Linked DNA regions of Homo sapiens: all the other regions are reported to be linked to region 4. The links are microRNA targets in miRTarBase. Many come from high-throughput screens and were not tested one by one. Region 4 holds a microRNA gene; each other region holds the end of a gene's coding sequence.
What was found. Region 4 holds the annotated microRNA hsa-miR-5009-3p (UCCUAAAUCUGAAAGUCCAAAA, at 1,354-1,375, shown strand). A microRNA usually pairs through its seed, bases 2 to 8, with sites in the 3' UTR of a target mRNA and lowers its output. Matches are read on the target gene's strand: a 7mer-m8 pairs with bases 2 to 8, a 7mer-A1 pairs with bases 2 to 7 and ends in A, and an 8mer does both.

Region 1 (5,098 bases), not on the chromosome of region 4:
TCAGTTTAGTAAGGTACTCATCAGAGAATTGGAAATGCTGCTGACTTGCAAAAGGATTTGCCTGCAGTCATTAAAGTTACTTGCTTTCTCAATCCTGCACAGTATTTTGAATTATCCCTTTGTTTGTTACCCTGGAAAATGGGAGAAAGGCTATAGTAAAAGAGAATGTCTTGATCCAGGCACTAGTCAGGCAAGTCAGTTTCAGAAAAAGAAGCATATGGAAACTGAGTATGTAGAAATTGATTTTCTTAAAACTACTCTGGCATACGCCCTAGAAAGTTTTGTGGACCACCTGAGGTATACATACCCCCGGTTGAAGAGTGCTGTGTGTCCCCATGAGGTTTTCTCCAGTTCAACCCCTCCTTTCACCTGTCCATAGGTTATTGCAGCCGAAGGAGAAATGAATGCATCCAGGGCTCTGAAAGAAGCCTCCATGGTCATCACTGAATCTCCTGCAGCCCTTCAGCTCCGATACCTGCAGACACTGACCACCATTGCTGCTGAGAAAAACTCAACAATTGTCTTCCCTCTGCCCATAGATATGCTGCAAGGAATCATAGGGGCAAAACACAGCCATCTAGGCTAGTGTAGAGATGAGCGCTAGCCTTCCAAGCATGAAGTCGGGGACCAAATTAGCCTTTAACTCATAAAGAGAGGGTAGGGCTTTTCTTTTTCCATATGTCAATTGTGGTGTTCCCAGAATGTATAGCAGTTATAAAAATAGGTGAAAGAATTGTTAGCTTGTAAATACTGAGAGATTGGTGATTTATATAAGGTAATCTGTTAGTCTTAAAATAGTTAAAAGTTTGTATTTTTAGATTATTATGTAGTAGGTTAGATCCCTCTTGTTTTGACTTCCACTGACTCATTCTGAACCCCCTAAGCACCCAGGCCAGAGGCAAGAACCTGGGCTGTAACTGCCACCTGACACCGCTGACTGGCTAAATGCTTTGCAGAAAGTGATGACCTTACACCACAACCAGCTTCTCCAGGTCATATGTGCCTTACCTCCAGAGAGTCTTTTTTTTTTTTTTTCTGAGATGGAGTTTCACTCTTGTTGCCCAGGCTGGAGTGCAATAGCATGATCTCGGCTCACTGCAACCTCCGCCTCCTGGGTTCAAGAGATTCTCCTGCCTCAGCCTCCCCAGTAGCTGGGATTACAGGCTCATGCCACCATGCCCAGCTAATTTTTGTATTATTATTATTGTTTTTTAGTAGAGACGGGGTTTCACCATGTTGGCCAGGCTAGTCACGAACTCCTAACCTCAGGTGATCCACCCACCTCTGCCTCCCAAAGTGCTGGGATTACAGGCATGAGCTACCACACCTGGTTTGGAGAGTCTTAATTAAGGAAATTTCCCTAATGTTCATTTATTTTCTAAATCCAGACCGTGTTTCAGAATAATCCTTACTTGAGAGTAGCCATTTTCTTGCCTGTACTTGTCAGAACTAGAGGAAATAGCCAAGACTAATGAAAAAGATTACTCTAACCCTTAAAAGACTTTTAAATTCACTACTAGAGTGGTCATTTTAAAAATACATCCATGTTTTAACTTATTTGAGCCTTCTTTATGAGTAAATGATTCCTCCTTGTTCTGTCTTTCAAACCAGCTAAATATTTGTCACAAAAGTGCTTTTTTCTCACTGTTGCCTATTTTCATATATCAGGTTTTAAATAGTTTTAATTTTTTAATAAAATTTTCTCTACGTTCTATATGCAATTGTTATATATCTATTTGAATAGCTGAAGGACTAAAATACTTTTTTAAGAGATAACTTCAGGAAACCATTATATTTTACTATCTGCATGCTGTTAACTGTGGTACACTGTGAAATATGTTGATTACAAACCCATTCATTACATAGTATAAGGAATTCACAGTATATTGACTATATAGTGTCTAATGATCTTGGGCAGATACTGTCAAACTTACAATATCTATATAGATGTAGGTCTTTTTAAATTTACCTAGTCATTCTTCTATCATGTATATTGATGCTGAAAGAGGAACTGGTCAGCTCCTCTGGACAACAAATTCTTAGTCTATAATATTAGGAGACATCTTCTGTTTTGCAAATGTCTGTGAATCTGAGCAACCTGGCATTCTGCTTACTGGCCAGAAAGCTGGCGGGTGACATTTGTAACATTTCCTCTTTGAGACTCTGAGTTCACCTAGAGAAGTCTAAGCATAACAGCTTTCTTTCCCAGCACGAGCCTTTATAGCTCTCTTTAGCTCAACCACTCTGTCCATCCAGCCAATGGATGTCCCTTCCCCTGTACCCCAATTTCAAGCTTATTTTAGGAAGCCTTGAACTACCATGTATCCTGGCTCCTAGCTGAGTTTATTAGAGGTATGGAGCAGTGCAACTTAAACTCAAGTTGCACTTACATTTTGAATTTTAAAATGATGGTTTTATCTGTTGTGTGAAGTGGTTCACCCTTGAGGACCAGGAGCCTCCATATCCTGACTGAAAACCTTTTCTGAGACTTAGAGTAACAGTGCTTTTGGTTCCTTGAGTTCTCCTGTCTCCAGATACCAAATGACCTTGACTTTTCTGCCTTGTGAATTCGTAGTCCAATCAGCTGAAATTAAATCACTTGGGAGGGACGCATAGAAGGAGCTCTAGGAACACAGTGCCAGTGCAGAAGTTTCTCCAGGTGGCCTCCCTTTCCAACAATGTACATAATAAAGTGTATGCACTTTCACTAATATTTTTGGGGTGAGAGTCTGTTTCGGCCTGTATTGAATGTCTGTGGATTTCCGTTTTCAGAAGTAGTACATTAGATCCTCCGGTTCTGAGCTGGCTGGTTGGCTTCTTCGTGTGCTTTGTGGGCCAGGGGAAGGGGACAGGCTGCTGTGGGCCATCTGCTGTCTCCCAGGTCCAGGCACCCTCTGGTGCACTGGCCCACACATTTTCCCTGGGGAGTTTCAAGATCCACACACACCCTCCACCACCACCACAAAGCTTTAACTGACTTCATTTTCTTTTGCCTTCCTCCAAACAGGACAGGAACCCACTTCTTGCTGTCACCCAGTTAATCACATAGACATAGCCTTTACTTAAAAAGAAACAAATAATGATAAAAAACCAATGTGTTTTACCTGCAACATCTGACAGAACTGTCTTGAATTAGTGGCTACCATTTGGGAGCACCAGTCACTCAGCTCTGTGCACAAATACGTGTATGTACATTCTATCATTTTATCTCAAAATGGTTTGATAGACACTTTATTATCACCATTTTGTAGATGAGGACACTGAAGGCTCAAAGGTTAAAACAGCCAAAGTCACATGGTCGGAAAGAAACAGAGCTGGGATTCAAACCCAGATCTGTCTAATGCCAAAGATTTGTGAGGTGTATCAGTGTATCTTCGTGTGACACTGCCTGCCTCTAGTGCCCCCATCCACACACCACCACCACCATTTTGTAGATAGATCACAACTTTTCCCAAGACTATCAAAGTTCATTTGTCTTTACATTCACACCTAACTGGGCCCTAAACTTAAACTTTTGTTTTGGGCCATCCAATTCAGCCAAAGTTCACTATAAAAAGAGGAGAGTCAATTGGGCATTTGTTTGTTTTTTTTTTTTCTTTGAGATGGAGTCTCGCTCTTGTCATCCAGGCTGGAGTGTAATGGCGTGATCTTGGCTCACTGCAACCTCTGCCTCCTGGGTTCAAGCGATTCTCCTGCCTCAGCCTCCTGAGTAGCTGGGACTACAGGCGCATGCCACCACGCCCGGCTAATTTTTGTATTTTTATTTTTAGTAGAGATGGGGTTTCACCATGTTGGCCAGGCTGGTCTCGAACTCCTGACCTCAGGTGATCTGCCCACCTCGGCCTCCCAAAGTGCTGGGATTACATGTGTGAGCCACTGCACCCGGCCCGATTGGGCATTTGTAACCACAAATGTCATAACACACTGTCCTGAGCAGGAGGAAACCAGTGTTCCATAGACTCTCAGCTTATGTAGCATTTTAAAATATATCATTTCTTGTGATACTCACAAACCTGCTCTCACAGTTACTTGGCTAGTAAATAGTGAATCAAGTGCCTCTTCCTCTTACTTTCAGCAGCAAACCCCTTTTTTCAAAGGTAACTGCATCAGTAAAAGGTTTACGGTGTCTTTTGCCAGGATAAATTCTTGAGTTCACATTTATAACATTTACTGAATATAAAGTAACTCAATGAGAACAATGAGGCTGTTTTGAAAAACAATATTAGAGTTACGAAAGAGTTCCAATCTTATATTCAGAGTCTACATTCGATTTCTCCATTTTGCTTGTCTGTTTTTATTACCACTTTAAACATGGAATTTGAATCTAATATTTACAAAATCACAGAAGCACCTCATAGAATTCTACATATTTCTGTTTGAAAATCACTGCTCTGGAGTGCTTTCCTTGCTATAGCATCCACTTTATAATGTGACCTTGGATAAGTCATATGTTCTCTCAGCCTCATTTTCCTCACCTGTAAAACAGGGAGATTATAGTCCAGCTGTTTGGGTCTCAGACCTTTTGAGAATGTGTTGGAAGCTACAGAGCTTCGTCTGAAAACTGCACATAGTGTGCACAACACAAATTTGGATGCTTTGGGGGTACACTGGCCCCACTCCCAAACCTATCCAAAGACTTAAGAAATCCTGGGCTAGATCATGTCTAAGATCCAACTACACAGCTATGCAGTTACCTGAAGAGTTTTTACTTTATAGGAACCAAGAAGAAGGCAAAAGGAACCACGGTTGAATGCCAGCACTGTGCAAGACACTTTACACAGCTTTTTTCATGTCCATGCATAATCTCATTTGGCTGTGTTGACCAGGCCACAGGAAAATCTCCGGGGATATTAGTGATGATCTCTTCCTGTGATGTTGTTAACATCAGGTCTACAGCAGACCCAGGCTCAGATCAAGCTAGGATTTGCCTAAACCAGTCACACTGGCTAATAGGATACAGCCCCTTTCAATCTACCCTGTAGCCAGAAGAGTTTAGTGAGAAAGGAAATTGAAGCCGCTGTTAAAACTGTGGTTTTACAATAAACTCTAGAAACATAGTAATCATAATGCAGGCTGCAAATCTTCCCTAAAAGATTCC
Region 2 (5,103 bases), not on the chromosome of region 4:
TCCTCATCTAGGCTGTGTCACTATTGGGTGCAAGGATATCATTGTTGGCTAGATTCATTTTGTATAATCATGTATCCTCTTGTGTGCTGGTAGAGATTTTAATCCTGATTTTTCCATAAAACATGAGTATTAAGAAATAATTCCTGGTTTGGAGAAACTGGAGAAATCACCCTTTTAAGGAAGAAACACTGGAAATTTCTGCTAACACCAAGATATTTAAGAGTGTACATAGTAGGTGCTCAACAAATTTATTGAATGAATGAGTGAATGGAAAAACTGGGAGAGTCAAAAGTGAGCAGAAGCTCTCCATTTCTACTTCTGTCACAAACCACATTAAATTGTAAATAAGGCCCTTCTCCACTTGACTTCAGGCAGCAGATTGTCTAGAAGCCTAAGGACAGCAATTTCTCTGACAAGACAAAGTAGATATTTTATACCAGGGGTTGGCAAACTACTGCCCACGGGCCGAATTTGGCCCAGTCTGTTTTTGTATGGTGCAAACTAAAAATGATTTTTACATTTTTAAAGAGTTATAAAAGAAAAAAATATGTGGTCTGTGAAATCTAAAATATTTACTACCTGGCCTGTTGGAGGAAAGGTTTGCCAATCTCTGTTTTATACCATTAACTATGAGATTAACAAAAACTTTTACCTTTGTGCAGAAGGTTAAAAAAAAAAAAACATGGTTAAGGAAAAGGAGACATGTTACCTCTTCATACACTCCTATAACTGTGGCATTGCAAAAAATAAAAATAACCACCTTTAAAAAAATAAATCTTATTTAAATTGCTGTCTTCTGACTTATTTTGATTGCTTCTACGTACCCATGGAAATGAAATATGTGTGAGTAGTTACTTAGGAATGTGTTGATTTTTATTTTATGCTTTGTTTTGATTAGCCCTATAACTTATATTCCACTAGTGGAAGCTCTTCCTGGAATCCATAAATCCTCTTTCTCAATTTTCCTTTTTGTGAAGTAGGAATTAGATCAGAAAGATTAGCATGTTTTTTGGAACATCAGGAAATTGGCTTAGAGGTCCTTACTATTACAGTCTTAGTCCTTTATGTGGTGGTAGCGATAGGGTATGATAGAGCCTATTTTAATTTAGTAATCCTTATTTTGGGATTTTGGGTTGTTCTCACCTTGATTTTTGTCACTGAAGGAGTCAGGTTATATCCACGGTCCCCTGAAGGGTACTTGTTTCAATTTGTTAGTAGTCAGTTCTTTCTTCTGGGACTCTGCTATGTATGTCACAGTTAAGTATACTCTCAAACTAATGCTTAAACAGAAAATAGAGGATCAGCTCATTAGGCTTTGAGTTTAGTTATCCACTTGACTCAGGTGCTAATAAATCCTTTACGTCTAAAATGTTCAGTATTGCAAAGGGCATATTTTTTTTGTTTGTTTTTTGAAACGGATCACTCTGTCACCCAGGCTGGAGTGCAGTGGCGCCATGTTGGCTCACTGCAACCTCCACCTTGCGGGTTCAAGTGATTCTCCTGCCTCCCCCTCCCAAGTAGCTGAGACTACAGGCGAGTGCCACCACACCCAGCTAATTTTTTGTATTTTTAGTAGAGATGGGGTTTCACCGTGTTAGCCAGGATGGTCTCGATCTCCTGACCTCGTGATCCACCCGCCTCAGCCTCCCAAAGTGCTGGGATTACAGGCGTGATCCACCGGCACCCAGCTGCAAAGGGCAAATTTTAAACAACCATATCTTCTATGGTAAGATTGAGTTTTAGGCCAGATTTTGGATTTCAGTCATAAATTCTCAACCCTCTAAAACTTTATAGTAGCAGATTATTCAAGTGAGAAGGACACTGATAACAACTCAAGGTAATTTTGCTTTTTCCATTAAAAAGAATGAGTACACCAAGTTCTTTCAGATTAGAAATGGCGGGAGCATCAGTTTTATCAGTTTCACTGCAAATTTTGTAAAAGTTTTATAATGTTTTCATAGGTTGTAATTCAGAAGTACAATGTTTTATAGGTTGTAATTCAGAAATACAAGTACATAAGAACCATCTGTTAGAGGATATGCCACTGAAAGGGACAACCGACTAATTTAAAAATTATCTATTGGGTGATATGATTAACAATATTTCAAAGAATTTTTTTAAGTGTTTGGTTCTTATTAACGGACTGGTATTTCATTTCTGACCAGTATCATGTAAAAGCTTCCCTAAAATTTTTATTCTGGTTTACACGGATTAGCATAAAGATAGAGCAAAAATTTCATCTTTGAAGGAGATCTGGTTAGATCCATGGATATCTGAATGGCATTGATTTATAAACCAACATTATTACTTGTGCGTTAATAATGAAATCTAAAACTTAGTATAAGTTCTTAAATGAAATTCATTTGACTTTCTGATATGAGTGACTCTTAAGGTTAGAAACATATGAATTTAGAAAAATGAAACCAAATGTTTTCAACAAAGTAATTTATTTTTTTCCTGAGACTAAATTCAGTACAGTATTTGTTTTTATAACATCCAACATGTCTTATGTTAAACTTAACCACTTTCTATGCAGTGACTGTGGTGAGATGATCTATTTTATTTGACTACCCTCAATGTAATTCATTTGGGTAGTTCTAAGGCATATCAGTGATCAAAATGTTTCTCCCTACAGTTACTCTTGCATTCTCAATCAGTTTCTTCTGCACATCATCTAAAGAAAATTTATGTGGTATGATTACACTCTTTTTTTTTTTAATACCAGAATTTCTAAAACTAAGAAAAACACTAACATTTAAAACATCAGTGTTTCTAGTCAAGGATATTTCAATTAAATTTCATCAGTACATTATAGTTTAACTCATGCTAGAAATGTTAAAACCCAAGATCTTCTGAGTCACATAATACCAACATTTCATATTAACGAATAAATTACTCAAGTTCTATACAAAGATACTAAGTGATGAGAAACAGAAAAAGTTAAGCTTTCAATAGTTTTAAAAAAATACAGAAGCAAACTAATGAACACAACTACGCAAAATATAGGCTAACCAATTGCAAGCTAAACTAGTTAGAGATTAACCTTTAAAAAATACATTTTAGAACTTAGAAGCAAACTAATGAACACAACTACACAAAATATACACTAACCAATTGCAAGCTAAACTAGTTAGAGATTAACCTTTAAAAAAATACATTTTAGAACTTCGTGACACCCTCATAAAAGGCAGCAAACTAAGGGTATTAAAACAGTAGTCATTATTTCAGTTACTGTGCATCAAGTCTAAAAGATCCAGATAAAGGGAATGTTTTGTGATTCAATTTAAATAACTTTAAAATTGGAAACATTTAACAATTGATAATATAATTAAAATTTAAAGAATATACACAAATGATCTGAATAGGTTTTATATTCAGTAACTTGCATGGTTTTTACACTGACACTTTTATCATTAATTTAGGAGAATCAGATGCATTTCCCTCCATATACCTAGGCATTAAGATTCCAAATTTATAAATATGGTAGTATAGTATTTTAAATATTAAGTTTGTACATGAATATTGGGTTTATCCGTATTTTCCTTTGTTTCCCAGGTATTATCCAGTTTTGTAAGGAAAACACTTTGATATCACAATCAAAACTTGTCTTGGTTACTAGGCTGTAGCCGTAATTGGGTTACAGTCACTTAGATTCATTATTTGGAATTATACTTAACTAAGACAAACCTAAATGAAATTTATCTCCTAGAAGAATTTCACATTTGCATTTACCTGCATGGCAGAATGAGTTTAAGCACATTTTAGCTGTTAGGAAATATTTAATTTACTTAAACTTGTTATCTGACTACTCAGAACTCTGAGTAGTCAACTGTACCTTTGCGTTTACTTAAAACTATATCGGATTCACTTCAAATAGAAGATTTTTAAATAGAAGTTAGACTTCATTAAGGTACTGGTATTAACTTTAAATCTGAAAGAAAACATACTGAAAGTTTGACAAGTTCATTAAAACATTTTTAGCATGTCTTGGTATATTTATCAGCTTTTTATTCTTCTTTCTGCTGGCATTTCCTTAATGTTTGTTTGTTTCACCTCTCTGGTTCATTGGATTGCTACTATTTATGCTTTCATGGACTTTATCTTCACAGTTTACTGTATCTTGTAAAGGCTTTACCACATCAGCTGTACTGGCTGTTTTTGGCAAGGTCATCTGCAGTGCACACCACAGGGCAGTGCGTGTTTTCCGAGTAGCCACACACATCTCTTTAATTGCAGAAGCAAGGGCAAAAACATCTGTAAAATAAACATTCAGGGTCATTTCATATTAAATGCCATTTAAATATCTGTTAAATCTTACAAAACCCAGTGCTTTTGCTACTAAATGATCAAATGTTATTTTTGTAAAAAAAGGATAGTTATTGATTGAACCAAAGTCCTGTCCTTTATCATTAAAATATTTAAAAGTATTGATACTTTATTTCTGACTTGTACAATAGTGACTATAGTTTGAGTAGAACACAGACTGTCTTGAAACAGTTATAACAGACAAAATTAATAAAATGGAAATACTTTTGGAGTAAATAATGTGGAGATTATTTACCAATTTATTCTGTAGGTAAGTGTTAATTTTAGAAATCTAATCTTTCAACCTCAGAATCTGATTTTATCAATACCTAAATTATCACACTGACTTATCACAAGAATATGCATTAATATTTGTACCTCTGTCATCTTGGCATCTAGGAACTCCTTGCCTTTGCCGATTGGAAGCATTAACAATTTCATCCTTTCTACGTGACTGTACAATGTGAATAGACTCCAAGTGTCTATCAAGAGCAGTAGAGATACTGGCATGAAGAAGAGAACTCCGAAGACGTTCCATTTTGCCTAGTAAAGTCACAACCTGAGGGAAGCATTTTAAATTTTGATAAGACATGTCCTGCCATTAACTTAAGTAAAAACAAATCTTCAGTGAAGCAGAATAGAGATGACAGCAATAATATTCATTCAATAAATCAAAGAATGCTTACTGTGTCCTGACACCATGCTGGGGGAAACAAAAATGGAAAGTGTTTTCTATCTACTTGTCTATGTTAATTCTAAAAATATGTGGTAGTTGATTACTGAAAATAAGCATCAATG
Region 3 (5,107 bases), not on the chromosome of region 4:
CCTCTACATTTTGTCCCTTAGGAAGACACTTTGATTGTCCAGGAAGGGAAAAGTAGGTATGGCAGTTGCAGAGTGGGGGAACACTCTTAGTCCATCCACTGAGCAAGTTGATGAGGTAATGAGAAGTATTTGGAGCAAGGAAGTTGACAGCTCCAGTGCTTCCAAGTCTTAAGATTCTGTATCCATTACCAGGTCAGAAGTCTGCTGTAAAACAGTTACCTGGCTTAAGGGGCTTGGCTATTCAAAAGCAGGTCTGTGCCTGGGTGAGATAAGCCTTTTTCCTCTGAGGGAGACTCAGTGGGCCGGGCACAGCAGGGAGCAACCACACCCCAACTTGGACCACGGACAGTCTCACTCAAGCCCCTAGGACTCCCTGTCCCTTGGCAGTGATACAGCGGAAGGAGAGACATGCAGAACTGTGCCCACACCAGCAGGCTGTGGGGACAGGATCACACATGCCGCACAAACCATAGCGACTGTTAAGAACTTGAGCTAAAGGCAGGCAGGCCCTCACCCCCCGAATTCATCACACCACAGCCAGCCACATATTCCCTAGCAGGGGCTCCGTGTCTCCCGGAGCTGAGCTCCATGGAAACAACTCCCACCCACACACAAAGGTCCTGTCTTCTCTGGGATTTTTACAACCATTTTCTCTCTCCATGGTATTAGCTTTTGGTTTGATTCTCCCAACTATTAATAGATTATAAGTCCCTACTCTTCTATTTCATTTCACCATTGCCCTCAGACCTCCTCGCATTTAACATTTGGCTCTACACTGCATCCGACTGTGGGGTTTCCCCAGGATGCTCACACACATGGCATGATATGCAGAATGTTGTTCTTATTTCCTTCAAAATCCAGTTTTTTTTAAAAAAAAAAAAGAAGGAAATGGGGAAGTATTATTAGGCAGGAAAATAAATCCACAAAGGGCAGTATTCATGTCACTAAAAAGCAAACAAATGAATAAAGACACAGAAAAAAAGTGTTATTTCATTCATTAAAATTTTTATTTTGAATAGCTTCAATCAAAAAAGGTTTCATAAGATTATTTACAATGCTGAATGTACAATTATGAATGTATGCCTTTTTGACAAGAGGGTACCATTCTTGAGCAGCAATACAATTTTAAAAATATAAAGATGCAGTATCATTTCTGATATAAAGTTACTTAAAAAAATCCAAGGTCTTAGGGAATTCACAAATCATAACTAGAAGTAACTTTTATTAATTTAATGTACACATAATTACCAAATTTTAATACATTAAAAATGTGTAAATGCCCACAGACTGTACAAAAATTAACACCCCATTTTGTTAAAAGTTCCCAACCACCTCCCACCATAAATATACAAAAACCTATTTTTAGATATGTCAAAATTGCATGCATGAATATTTTCTAAAGCTTGAATTTTGCTCTTCACTGGATAATGTTATCTATAGCTGTTTCTGTAACAGACTACATAAACATTGATATATTATTTACCATGCCTTTGAAACTGTGCAGGACTTTCATAAACATGGGGAACAAAATAAATAGAGTAAAAACTGCAACAGTTTTGTTTAGATGCAAGTGCAATTGGGAAAGCTTTCGAATTTCAGGATTATAAAACTACTATAAAAGTATTTATTCTGTTGTTGGCTTAGCCACTTGTATTCAAGCATTATTTGCAGCATTGCTTTACAGCAGTTGGTGCTAGAAGATACAAAACATATAGTTACCACTATTTATACTTGAGGGAGAAAAAAAACTTTAAACAACCCTGAGGGAGACACACATTAAAAATCTTGTTATTTATTTAAAAAGTTAAAAAGTTACATATCATTATTTAACAATTACTTTCCCAGACATTTCTGTCCTTTAAGTATGTGCATAAATAAAATTTAAATCAGCAATATTCATCTTAATACATCAAAATAATATATGTACAGATTTTAAAATTTAGGTCTGTATAAACTCAAATAATTTAATGTGAAATTCAGAATCAAAATTACTATGTAATGGTAACCTACGAGAGAAGACTCAGTCTATCTATGGCACTGAGTAGAACCCACACCTGGCTTCACAGGCATTCTTCAAATAACATTCTCAACGTGAATAACCCACCTTGTCTATATTCAAATCTAACTTCCTACAAATGCTTTTCCAGCCACCTAAACACCTCATTCCTTTGAAAACAATATGGACAGAAGAGATATAAAACCCTTACTAACTCTAAATGTTAAAAAAGTGGGGGGGGGGTGTCAAAAATAGCTCTTTATGATCATGCTCTTAAAGATGTTAAATACAATCGGATAATTGAATTTTTAAGCTGCTACTTAGCAATTACTTTCATTATATGCTTCAGTACTTAAACCAAAGAATAAAATGCACAATTGTGGAAATCACTGAAGAATAACACGAGCATATTTGAAATTAATATGGAAATTATAAAATGATCCAGAGAATAAGTAACTATAGAAAATAGTGCTAATTCACAGCTCAAGAGGTCTAAGATGCATAGCTTCATAGAATCATTCATGGAACAACTGTTATCATCTAATGTGTATTAATAGCATATTATACATTTGATGGAAAACTTCGATTATATTTTTGCAGGAATCATCAGTGGCAATAGCAGTAACAGTGATCCTGAGTGTAATTTCTATTTTTCTATAGTTACCAAACATCATCCAGGTCTTTGCAGCATAAAGAGTGAGAACCATTTGGTCCTAAAATTCTAGGTAAAATTTGGTAAATTTGTAAATATATGTTGGGAAAAGAATGATCAGCTAGAAGTAGAAAGCACGAGCAAGCATGTTACTGGCTCTGGAAGAACAGAGAACAATGTCACACTGTTTTCATAGTTTAGCGTCCATTTTATAGCACGATCAGTTTTCTGTGTTGTGGTAACTGTGGGCGTTGCCAGACTGCTGGATCCACCTATAAAAGGTGTTTTTTAAAAGTTACCTTAATTTTGGCAAGAATTTAAATGTTAATCAGGCCAAACAGAAAGGTGAAAAATGTTTCTCCACATCTCTTTTGGCTCAATGAATGTCAATTTTTTAACTTTATTTCCTCAATTTTTTTTCTCCCAGAAATTTCCGCATCAAATATGCTCATTTGTAACGATCCAATTCAAAATAGACATGTTCTGACCTCTGGCGCCACCTAATGGCATAAAACAAACTCATCAAATTCATATTGCTTTGAAAAAACGGCAGCCATTCAAATCCAGTATTTTTTAAGCCTCATTATTGATAAGACAGAGACATACATCAAACCTCAAAAAATTTTATGAGGTAAAATTCTAACTTAAAAAAAACTATTATCCTATGTCTTTAGGTAATTGAAAACATAGAAGAAAATTTTAAAAAACCATTTAAAATAACACAAAGCCTGACAGAAACAAATTTGAAGAAACGTTAAAAGATGAATCTACATCTACTGCCGAAAGAAATGAATCTTATTTCCTAGTGAAAAAGGTTCTACAACATTTAACAGAAGCAAATTAGACTGCCAACACCACACATAGCACAGGAGCCATTTAAGAGCTTTGAGAGGCGTCTCAAGAAGGCAGTGAAGCACCTTGCTGATTAGAAAAATAAAACCCAGGCAGTTTGTACAGAAAATATAAAACCAGAAATGGAGATTACCTGAGTTGTTCTATAAGCAACACCATAAACACTCATTCCTAACTCTAGACCATCATAGGGAATTGGCATATGTTTATACAGAATTCTTTGGAAGAAACATTGGAATCAAATGAAAACAGGCTTTCAGTATATTTTCACTGGAGGCTAATTAACACTCATCTTCTTTTTATCAATCACAAACTTACAGCCTGTATATAAACACAGACTTTTCTAACAAGAGGGTTGTGAGCATAAATGTGAAGAGGTAAACTAGTCTCAAAAACTAATGTTGAAAAACCTACCAAACACCAAACTTCTCCTGTACCCAATATAAAGAATATCACTGAAAGTAACAATCAAGAAAATTCTGGAAATGTATGTAATATTTGGGTTGCTGAATGAAGATATAGGACTTTATGGATTGATTGTTAATTTAACTGTTAGGACGATATATTTTTCTGTTTTTATTTTAAGGAAGAGCAAAGCTGTCAAATAAGCTACTATATCAGAAGGGACATAAACTGAACTAGTGCCATTCTGACACACAGGATCAGAAACTCCTAAAATCACATATTCCTGAATACTGCTATCAGCAATACCACTGAGACTGATTCACTGCTATGTTATGGTGATGATTTGACATGATCCATTCTCCTTAACTAAAGCTTTAGCTTCTGTGGTTGTCTGAGGTTTTGGTGGCCATTCTGGATCAACCAAGAGCTCCTGCGCCAGATACATGTACTTTGCCTTTGGTGTCTTCTTTCTACAGCCCAGGGCCCAGGGTAAGCAGCATTTTCCCCACCGATCCACTGACTCCTAAGAAAATAAGAAAAAAACAAAACAAAACACCCCAGTTGATTAAAGGCTTGTCGTTTTAAACAGGTTTGTTAAAGCACACATTAGCAGAGAAAAATAAGAGGAAATGACTTCTGAGCACAACGAATGGGGGAAAAAAAAATCCATGTTAAAAAAAGGCAGCTTTGGCCGGGCGTGGTGGCTCATGTCCGAAATCCCAGCATCTTGGGAGGTCGAGGTGGGAGGACTGCTTGAGCCCAGGAGTTCGAGACCAGCCTGGGCAACACAACGAAATGTGTGTTCTTTTGTTTTATTTTGTAAGGGCAGCTTTCAATTATTTAGGAACTGATTATTCTTTAGATTATATTTTTTTTGGGGGGATAATCAATATGATTGACTTCATTTAGTTTTATATACCTATACTCTTGTGTACTAATACCTTTTAAATAACTTGCAGATATGGATTCTTTACCACAGAATATCTAATGTATTAAGAACTTTAAGCCATTCAGAAAGAGAAAACATTTTTAATATTTAATTTGAAAATCTTCACATTCTGTCCCAAACTATCTTTTGGTACTATTGCTCCTGGCAACTTAGCCGCATGATCATTTTTGGAAGAAAGCTGTGTACAAGTATCCTTGTTACTGTTAATATCATCTCTCAAAACATGAAGTAAATATCGTTTGGTCAAAATTAG
Region 4 (5,107 bases):
GTTTGGGTAGCCAAGGCATGAGAATCACCTGAACCTGGGAGGCAGAGGTTGCAGTGAGCTGAGATCACACCATTACACTCCAGCCTGGGCAATAGAGCGAGACTCTATCTCAAAAAAAAAAACAAGAACAAAAAACTGCCCAAATGAGGTCAACATAAAGGCACTGAAATAATATTAGGATGAAATAATAGATGTTAAAAAAAGAACTGACTCCCTAATGGGGTCACAGTAGAATTTTTTAAAGTTGAAGTACATTAAAACCTGGATGTTACATTAAGTTATTTTTTAAAACTTAGAACAAGGAATCCTACTACCTAAGCGCATTTTATGGAATAAATTGGTTATCATCCAAAAACCTGACTCTAAAAAGGAAGATGGGCCAGGCACAGCGGCTCACGCCTGTGATCCCAGCACTTTGGGGGCCGAGGCAGGAGGATCACGAGGTCAGGAGTTCGAGACCAGCCAGGCCAATATGGTGAAACCTTGTCTCTACTAAAAATACAAAAAAAATTAGCTGGGTGTGGTGGCATGCGCCTGTAGTCCCAGCTACACGGGAGGCTGAGGCAGAAGAATCGCTTGAGCTGGGAGGCGGAGGTTGCAGTGAGCCGAGATTGCGCCACTGCACTCCAGCCTGGGTGATAGAGTGAGACTCTATCTCAAAAAAAAAAAAAAAGGGGAAGATGTTCGTCAAATATTGCGTATTAGTACTGGTACAAAATTACTTACTAAGTAAAATCTTAGCCGACAATCAGTTGAACCAAGGGATTGTGAGACCTGCCTTTTTTTTCTTTTTGACTCTGCCATTAACAAGCAGTGTGACCTTAAACAAATCATCTAGGCTTTATTGGCCTTAAGGGTTTTTGTTTGTTTTGCATTTTGTCTCTTCTGTGTGTTGAGTGGTTTTTTTTTAATCTACAAAGATACTAGATATTCTTTTCTAGCCCTAAAATTATTTCTTTAGCAGGAAAACTGCATACTATTAAATAGAAGAATTATACATTGTGTCCAAATAGTATTTATCCCAAGAATGCAAGTCAGTATAACAAAGAAAAATTAATAGTCTATTATAGCAGTAAGAAAAACTAATATAATAAAAATTAGTAGTTGCTGAGAGGAGCGATTATACAAATTATATTAAATACACTCAAACTGGAATAAGAAGCATTTTTGATTAAAAGTACACATTTATTAATGTAACTGTTTACTTTCTGAAGAAATGAATATAGTTATGTGGTTCAGAATTCAGAGGCACACTATGAGTATACAGGTTGAATATCCCTTTGAAATGTTTGGGACCAGAAGTGTTTTGGATTTTGGACTTTTTCAGATTTGGGGATATTTGCATTATACTTATCCTAAATCTGAAAGTCCAAAACCTGAAATGACCAATAAGCATTTCCTTTGAGCATCATGTTGGCACTCAAAAATTTTGGATTTTGCAGTGTTTTGGATTTCAGGTTTTTGGATTTTAAGTGTTCAACCTGTATAGTGAAAAATATCCTTCTTCCCCTTTCCCCTTATCACCTAGTTTACTTTCCTTGAAGCAATCAATTTTAGTTTCAAAACCAAGAGCCAAGAACCAGAGCCAATGTTATCTCAAGGGTGAAATCTGTAGGCATTTATGAATGCTCTTGTTGGGTGTTTCGTCCAGGTGCAGTGGCTCATACCTATAGTCCCAACCCTTTGGGAGCCTGAGGCAGGAGGATCACTTGAGCTCAGGAGTTCAAGACCAGCCTGGGCAACATAGTGAGACCTAGTCTCTATAAAAAATCAGGTGGTGTGCCCCTGTGGTCCCAGCTACTCATGTGGCTAAAGCAGGAGGACTGCTTGAGCCCAAGGGGTTGAGGTTTCAGTGAGCCATATTCATGCCACTACACTCCAGCTTGAGTGACAGAGCGAGATTCTGTCTCAAAAAAAAAAAAGGAGTATCTTTTATTGTTTACTCTAATTTTAACAAACATTTGTAGTGAGTGATACAAAAACAAATGAAGAAGTGACATAGTAAAGAAAGAAAGAGAGGTAAGTTATCAATGTAAGGTGGCCGGATTATGGACATAGAAAATATTTTTAAAGAATTATAAGTAAGGAAATGATATGAGCAAAATGACAGAATATGAGATAAAGCCAACAAAATTAAATTTCCTATTTCTGAGAAAACAGCTAGAAAATTCATAATTAAAGAAGTCTCATTTACAGTAATAATAAAGGATAGTTAGTGCTTGGGAATTAACTTGGTATGGAATACTTGACATTGATTCCAATAAAATTATAAAATCTTAAAGAAAAAACAAAGGAATAGTTGGAACAAATGGAGCTACAAACTCTCCCGTTGTTGGGAAGAGTCAAGCAAAGATGACAGTAGTCCCAAAGGTGGTGAGCAATACATCAAATGGAAAACCAAGTATAATTCCGTCAGGAGAGTTTATAGAACTCAGTAAAGGCAAAATTTATCAGGGAAAAGGAGTGGCCAAGAAATGCAGAAGTATATTTCTAGGGAAAAAGGACAGTGATGGGAGATTTGCTTTACTAGTTTTCAGAATGTATAATAGTTACAGATGAATTGATTATCTAGAAAATCCAAATCAGTTGGAAACAATTGGAACTAATAATAGAGTTCTGTAAGGTGACTAAATACAAGTTTAACATATGGAAATTAGTAGCTTTTGGCCAAGCACAGTGGGTCACGCCGGTAATCCCAGTCCTTTGGGAGGCCGAGGCGGGCAGATCACTTGAGGTCAGGAGACTTTGAGACCAGCCTAGCCAACATGGAGAAACCCCGTCTCTACTAAAAATACAAAAAATTAGCCGAGTGTGGTGGCACATGCCTGTAATCGTAGCTACTCAGGAGGCTGAGGTAGGAGAACCTCTTGAACCCAGGAGGCGGGGGTTGTGGTGGGCTGAAATTGTACTCTGGCCCGGGCAACAAGAGCGAAACTCCGTCTCAAAAAAAAAAAAAAGAGTAGGTCAAAGCAGAACAGGGGGGTAAAATGAGTGTTCTCAGCTGATTCAGGTAGCAGAGCACCTAGGATAACAGACACTGGATACTTTGTTTCTTTTTTTAATTAATATGAATAAAACTACTCTAAGTCTTTATGCAAACGGTTGTGCCTATTCTGCTAAAAACAGAATGCCTGGATCAAAGGGAATTAATATTTCTAATCATAATGCATGTTGCTAGATAGATATTTAGAAAGAGTATGTTAGCCAGGCACGGTGGCTCACACCTGTAACCCCAGCACTTTGGGAGGCCGAGGCGGGCGGATCACCTGAGGTCAGGAGTTCAAGACCAGCCTGGCTAACATGGTGAAACCCTGTCTCTACTAAAAATCCAAAAAGTTAGCCGGGCGTGGTGGTATGCACCTGTAATCCCAGCTACTTGGGGGGTTGAGGCAGGAGAATTGCTTGAACCCGGGAGGTGGAGGTTGCAGTAAGCTGAGATCGTGCCATTGCGCTCCAGCCTGGGCGACAACAGTGAGACTCCATCTCAAAAAAAAAAAAAATGAAGAGTATGTTAATTTATAATGCCTCTAGTACTATATAAGTTTGTTTCCTTGTAACTCCAGTACTGAAATGTGTCATTTTAAATTTCTACCCAGGTAGAGGTACCTCACACATTTGAATTTTTATTAATCATGCTTCCTTTTTCCACGTGTGGGTTTATAATTTTGTTTTCCATGTCAGCCTTCTATAATATAATTGAACCACTTGTCCAGTGAAATCTAGATCCTGGCTTATAATGTCATATTTTGTATATTCTAAGGTGCGCATTTTATCACACTTCAATAACTCTAAAATCTGGATGTGTGTTGTAGTGGGTGACATCTTAACAATTATAATTGGCAGCATTTTTTTTCTTTGTTAGATAAAATAATGGTTTGCCTTATCATCAACAAATAAGTAAATCTGCGTATTTTGAGTTTATTTTAAAACTTATTTAACTAATTATTGTCTAACCTATTATATTAAGTGTAAATAATCCATTTTTACCTCCCCTTGTTGAAGAAACTCTAATGTTGTATACTGTATTAAGTTCAGAGTGAAACCCAAGCCCCCTATTACAGCCTGTAAGGCCCAACATGGTCCGGCTCCTTTGCCTCTCTCTCCCCTCACCGTATACACGCTCATCTTCACTATGCTCTAGGCTTCTTGCTGTTCTTCAAACACAAGTACATTTTTGTGTCTGGGCCTTTATACTTGTTCTGTCCCCTGGAATACTCTCATCTAGGTTCCTTCACTTCAGCTCTTTCAATGACTGACTTTTACCATTTATGTCTCAGCTCGAATTTTAATCCTTGGACAAACTTTCTTAGCACTCTATCTGAAGTAACCCCTGTCACATCATCCTGTTTACTTCCTTCAGGGCACTTAGGACAATAGAAAATATCTTGTTTCATTTGCCTCCTTGTTCTTCCCACACCCAGAATATAAACTGGATAAGAACATGACTTGTTGACTGTGGTGTCAACAATGGTATGTTCCTAGCATGTAGTCATCACACCTTTAACAATGGTTGAATAAACATTTAATACATAATTGGATTTAGTTTTTACCCTTCATTTCTTCATTTTATTCTACTGAGTTAACTGAGTTACATTTTTCTTTCTGCATTACTTTCATGTTGTTTTATTTATTGTTTCTTTTTTTTTTTTTGAGACGGAGTCTTGCTCTGTTGCCCAGGCTGGAGTGCGGTGGCGCAATCTCGGCTCACTGCAACCTCCGCCTCCTGGGTTCAAGCGATTCTCCTGCTTCAGCCTCCTGAATAGGTGGGACTATAGGCGCCCACCACCGCACCTGGCTAATTTTTGTATTTTTAGTAGAGTCGGGGGTTTCACCATGTTGACCAGGCTGGTCTCAAACTCCTGACCTCGGCCTCCCAAAGTGTTGGGATTACAGGCGTGAGCCACTGCACCTGGCTATTTATTGTTTCAATATAGTTTCACATACCTAGTAAGACTAGTTATTTCCCCTTTGTGGCAGTTGTTTTTCAGTACGTTCTCTGATATTTATAACTATTTGTTCATCCATATGTATTCTTGAATAATTTGTAAAGGTCCCAAAAAGTCCCTGTTGGATTATAATTATAATTAGAAGTGAATTAACAGTTAGC
Region 5 (5,107 bases), not on the chromosome of region 4:
TGGTGTGTTTTGTTTTCCAAATGGAAAATTATTTTTGACTTGTTGTGAGATATAAATATTGACTATGCCAGGAAAAAATTCATCTATTTCCCTGAACTCATTATTAATAACTTTAGATGGCTCTATTCTACTTGTTGTTTGGCCTGGATTCCTCCAATAACTTTCCTTTTCAGGAAGGTTATTTGACAGATGTTAAGTCTGCAGAATGAGGCTGCTGTGGTTGTTTCTGGGGCACAGGCTGAGAAGTGGGGAGAGAGAGTGGGGAATGACACCCAAAATATGATGGGGGAGTTGCTACCTGAAAACCTACAGAAATGTCTGGCCTGGAGAAGCCCTCCCTTGCATACCTGGGAACAGGGCTCACCAGGCCCACAGCAATTATGAACCTTGGAAAGATGGCCAAAGCCAGGGTGCTCTTCGCTGGTATTTGGTGGGGTAATACTCACCTTTCCTTCCTTCCAAAACCAATGAACATTTATTATTTACTTGTTGGGCTATGATACTCCTGAGTTTATACAGTAGAAATGACTTCCTTTGGTCAATGAATCCAATGGCAGATGTCGGGCATTAACTCAGAAGGTGAGAAAAGGCACCATTCTCTCTGCAGCCCCACTCACTTTTGGCACAGTATAGCTTATAATTTCTCCCTCTGGAACTGGGAAGGGAGGGGGGTTTCCTAAACTAAAATGCATGCCCTCCATGTACTATTTTCTTTTTTCGAGACGGAGTCTCACTCTGTAGCCAGGCTGGAGTGCAGTGGCGCAATCTTGGCTCACTGCAACCTCCACCTCCCGGGTTCAAGCAATTCTTGTGTCTCAGCTTCCCGAGTAGCTGAGACTACAGGCGTGCACCACCACGCCTGGCTAATTTTTTTTTTTATTTATTTTAGTAGAGATGGGGTTTCACCACGTGTTGGTCAGGATGGTCTTGATCTCCTGACCTCATGATGCGCCCGCCTCAGCCTCCCAAAGTGTTGGGATTACAGGCATAACCACTGTGCCTGGCCCCATGCACTATTTTCAACAGCATATTTTTATTCCCATTGCTTTCCAAGAACAGAGGCAACTTATGAGGTCCTGTGAAGAGGGTGCAAAAAATCGAAGTCAACATTTCTACTAACAGGTTGAGGAGGTGTACAAAGATCTTTTTCCCTATAAAACATGAAATGACCTAGAAGCACTGTTACAAATCTTACCCCAGAAATAGCTTTCCCATTAGGTTTTGAGCAGAAGTCCTGTTTAGACAGTAAAGCTTTTTCTATCTAGTTAAAAGATACATTAGAAATAATGATGCCTTATGATGTCCTATCTTTGAAAAATATGATTTGGGCATAAAAAGTACATATCAGTCTTGCAGTAGTCCAAGTTTTGAAAATCTGAGGATTAAAAATTATTTTCTAAATTAACTTGGTCCAGCAGATTGACATTATAAAATACAGGTTACCATAAGTTTTGCTGGAGAATATTATCTGGAATAGTTTCATGAAACCCAGACAATACTACTTTCCATTAATTCTTTTAATATATTATTCTAGCCTATGGCCAAACATGCAGTTTGGTTGCATTTTATGAGCATTTCACAATAAAGATCATATTTCTAAATACAGTTCACTGTCAAAGAAAAGGTATTAAAATTCTTCTTTTAAAAAAAATCATAGATGGACCTAGCCATCTCTCATACAGCTTGTGCATAGTTTTGTGTGTTTTTTTTTAAACATTCATCCATCCACACCCTTTAAATACCATGCTCCACAAGCAGGCAAACATTAAATATATTCCAGATGGGAATCAACAGCTGTTCAGTTCCTCTCTCTATAAACCCGTGGTTGGTGTGGCCCTCTGTCATGAATGTTGAATTTTGCAGAGAGAAGGAGGAAGGAAAGATGCTAGATAAAGAGCACCCCACCCTAAAAAGAAATTTTTTCTTTTTAAAAAGTCTCCTTTATTCGAAAAGAGGCAGACTGGTTCCTGGGGTTACTGCCCTTCTAGGGGAAAGTGCCACATTTAATAAAACTTATTTTTTTTTTTTTAGGGATGGGGTCTTGCTATGTTGCCCAGACTGGCCTTGAACTCCTGGGCTCAAGGGATCCTCTCGCTCACTTTTTTTAAAGTGAAAGTTTGCTTTCACTTTAAAAATGTTAGTGGAGAGTCACCAGGAATTTTGCATAAATGAGACATAGAGGAGCAAAGTGTTCATGAAAGACTCGGTCACATGCTGACTGACATGAGTCCTGCATTTCCAACGTGGTAGGAAGAAGGGAAGGAAGACTGTTGCCACTAGAGGTTTGCAAAGCCCCTTCCTAACATTCTTAAGGAAGAAGACTGAAAGGTGGCATTCAAACACAACAAAAGGGATATTTTTTTTTTTTTGAGACAGAGTCTCGCTCTGTCGCCCAGGCTGGAGTGCAGTGGCACGATCTCGGCTCAGCGCAAGCTCCGCCTCCCAGGTTCACGCCATTCTCCTGCCTCAGCCTCCCGAGCAGCTGGGACCACAGGCGCCCACCACCACGCCCGACTAATTTTTTGTGTTTTTAGTAGAGACAGGGTTTCACTGTGGTCTCGATCTCCTGACCTCGTGATCCGCCCGCCTCGGCCTCCCAAAGTGCTGGGATTACAGGCATGAGCCACCAAGCCCGGCCTTTTTTTTTTTTTTTTTTTTTTTTTAATGAGACAGAGTCTCCCTCTGTTGCCTAGGCTGGAGTGCAGTAGCGCAATCTAGGCTCCCCCCGCAGGTTAAAGTAATTCTCCTGCCTCAGCCTCCTGAGTAGCTGGGATTACAGGTGTGTGCCAACACGCCCAGCTAATTTTTGTATTTTTAGTAGAGACAGGGTTTCACCATGTTGGTCAGGCTGGTCTCGATCTCCTGACCTTGTGATCTCCCCGCCTCAGCCTCCCAAAGTGCTGGGATTAGAGGCGTGGGCTACCACACCCGGCCAAGAGGGATTTTCTTTAAGCAAGCTTTCACAGTAGTGGAGTTAAATGATGTGGGCTAAAAGGTGGAGGCAAAAAAGCCAAAAAGAAATGGGAAAGGACATGGCAGGATGGGAAATTCCAACATGAGCTAATATGAGTGTGAGAACGATCATTTGCAGGAGAGTGAAAATCTCCCGCAAAGGTAGATAAAGAGCCACTTTGTGTGTCCAGTGAGAAAGTGGACTGTGAGTAACCTATAAGCTGCTCATTGGAAACAAGAGGGCCCTCAACAACGTTACAAAGGAGCAGATCATCCTTCTGGTCTCTTGCTCCTGGTGCTTCTGAATCCACAGCAAACCTTGGCAGGAACATGCTTCCCTTTGCCACCCAGAGGTGCTCTGAGAAAACACTCTAACTCACTAGGAGGTGGAGATATAGACCTTTTTCTGAACTGCTTCTCACATGCAGGGGAAAATAAATCAAAGAGAAGGCCTAAAAGAACTGGAACTTGGACTAAATTAAAGAAAATTAAGAAAAAATGAGAATAGGAAGGAAGTTTTTGCAAACAAGGAAAACCACTATTTTTTTTTCTCCCCATCCAAGATAACTTTCAATAGTGTATTACTCTCAATATGTTGGTGGCAAGCTTGGTTGGCTCCAGACAAAAACTTGTAATACCCAAGGAGAAAAAATTTACCTACCGCTGCTGATGGCATTAGTGAGGTCAGCCCAAGCCAGCAACCTCCTTGCAGACTTCAGCCCCACTGTATATTGGTTCAGCCTGGATCATGGCACCTAATGGTACCTTCTGGGCACCTGCTCAGAACCAGGAATTCTGCACCTCTCTCTAAGCTCAGCCAGTTTATTGAACAAATAATCTATATTTATAGAGCAGACTCCACTGTTGATTAAACAGCTTTAAAATATTATAGCAAACGAGAGCCCATTGTTTTAATGTGAATCCAGGCATTTCACTTTGTTTTTTTGAAAAGAGAGTTTAATCTTCTTCCCTAAATAGGATACTTACAGATAAGCATGGCATGAAACCTTAAGCACCGTATTTGAATTTTAGAATGTGGCAATCTATATAACAGTAAATATATGACTGTGATTCTTTTCTATCTTCTCTAAACGCCATTCAATTCTCTCCTCTCTTTAATTGAATTTGGGAAACAAGGTTTGACAAAGGGATACAATATTTAAAGTCTACTAGAAGCACAAGGAAAAAATTCTCCACCAAAGCACATCGACACGTTTGTCCTCCCCACCCCTTTTTAACTGAAGAGCCCCAATTTTGATACTAGAGGAGTTATGGTCTATTGTGAACACACATCTTAGAAGTAGCCTCACATTTTCTTAGAGCTCACTTTGTCATTTTCCCCCTTTTGATACTCTGCCAAATTTAACTTCAAGAATTTATGATTTAAGACACTGTGAGAGTACTTAAATCCAAAGTTCCTGGAAAAATAGGATGTAAAAGAAAAGTTACAATGCAAACCACCCCAATGGACTCTTAGTGAGAAGCAGGTAAATCAATCATTCACTCCCTCATGTCTGCAGGCCTAGGAGGGGACTCTGAAAATAGCATCGTATTTGGAAGAAGAGGAGTGGAGAGACGTCAGGAGAAGAGAAGAGAAAAATGTATGTTTTCTAGGTCTCCAGTGGTCTTTCTTCTCTTTAGATGGTTTAACTGCAGGTGAGTTGATCTTTCTCTTCCTTTGGCGTGACGGTGTTGGGATGTGCTATGGGTAGAAGTCTCTGGGGGCTCTCAAGTCTCTTGTCTCAGTTCTTCTTGGATGGTCATCTCCAGAGCCCAGGTCCATGGCTTCTGGGTAGCTGGGAAATTCCTGAGGTAAAGGGAACTCCTCTGCTGAAGAGTGAGTCCGGTGCCCGAACACCTTTTCCTGCAGCTCAGTGATGTCATTGCGGATGTCAGCCAGCATAAGTAGCAGGAAGTCGAAAGAACCAGGGGGTCCCTGTGTACATGGGAGGAATCAAAGCTAGAATACGACAGACAGCAATGGCCTCCGGGGCTCCATGACTTGACCTGCTGCTTGCTGGCAACTACTTTCTCAATAACTCTGTGCCCCAAATGGAGCCAATGTGAGGACTGCTACAGGAGCCTGGGGGTCCTCCATATTGTTTTCTAATTCTGTCACTTCTCAGCTGAGCTTTGGTGATGTATTCACCTTTCC

Region 1: miRTarBase lists STOM as a target of hsa-miR-5009-3p. Seed matches in the 3' UTR shown: 7mer-A1 at 2,299-2,305.
Region 2: miRTarBase lists MEIOC as a target of hsa-miR-5009-3p. Seed matches in the 3' UTR shown: 7mer-m8 at 3,687-3,693.
Region 3: miRTarBase lists ATP13A3 as a target of hsa-miR-5009-3p. Seed matches in the 3' UTR shown: 7mer-A1 at 4,171-4,177 and 7mer-A1 at 2,708-2,714.
Region 5: miRTarBase lists CCBE1 as a target of hsa-miR-5009-3p. Seed matches in the 3' UTR shown: 7mer-m8 at 3,922-3,928 and 7mer-A1 at 675-681.

What each region holds. Positions count from the first base shown.
Region 1 is chr9:121,336,690-121,341,787 of GRCh38, reverse strand. STOM (stomatin) reads left to right here. Exons shown (of 7, transcript NM_004099.6): 7 at 380-2,801. The coding sequence ends at 586. Among named protein-coding and RNA genes, the nearest start is that of STOM, 31 kb to the left of the region's middle.
Region 2 is chr17:44,673,127-44,678,229 of GRCh38, reverse strand. It overlaps MEIOC (meiosis specific with coiled-coil domain), which reads right to left. Exons shown (of 8, transcript NM_001145080.3): 7 at 4,684-4,864; 8 at 2,429-4,254. The coding sequence ends at 4,034. It overlaps CCDC43 (coiled-coil domain containing 43), which reads left to right. Exons shown (of 5, transcript NM_144609.3): 5 at 1-790. Among named protein-coding and RNA genes, the nearest start is that of CCDC43, 14 kb to the left of the region's middle.
Region 3 is chr3:194,401,689-194,406,795 of GRCh38, forward strand. It overlaps ATP13A3 (ATPase 13A3), which reads right to left. Exons shown (of 34, transcript NM_001367549.1): 34 at 989-4,428. The coding sequence ends at 4,231. Among named protein-coding and RNA genes, the nearest start is that of GP5, 5.0 kb to the left of the region's middle.
Region 4 is chr15:89,880,217-89,885,323 of GRCh38, reverse strand. It overlaps MIR5009 (microRNA 5009), which reads left to right and starts at 1,294; the gene lies at 1,294-1,393. The region is part of intron 7 of ARPIN-AP3S2 (ARPIN-AP3S2 readthrough); the gene reads left to right. All of the region lies in intron 3 of AP3S2 (adaptor related protein complex 3 subunit sigma 2), which reads left to right.
Region 5 is chr18:59,431,254-59,436,360 of GRCh38, forward strand. It overlaps CCBE1 (collagen and calcium binding EGF domains 1), which reads right to left. Exons shown (of 11, transcript NM_133459.4): 11 at 1-4,888. The coding sequence ends at 4,655. Among named protein-coding and RNA genes, the nearest start is that of LMAN1, 75 kb to the left of the region's middle.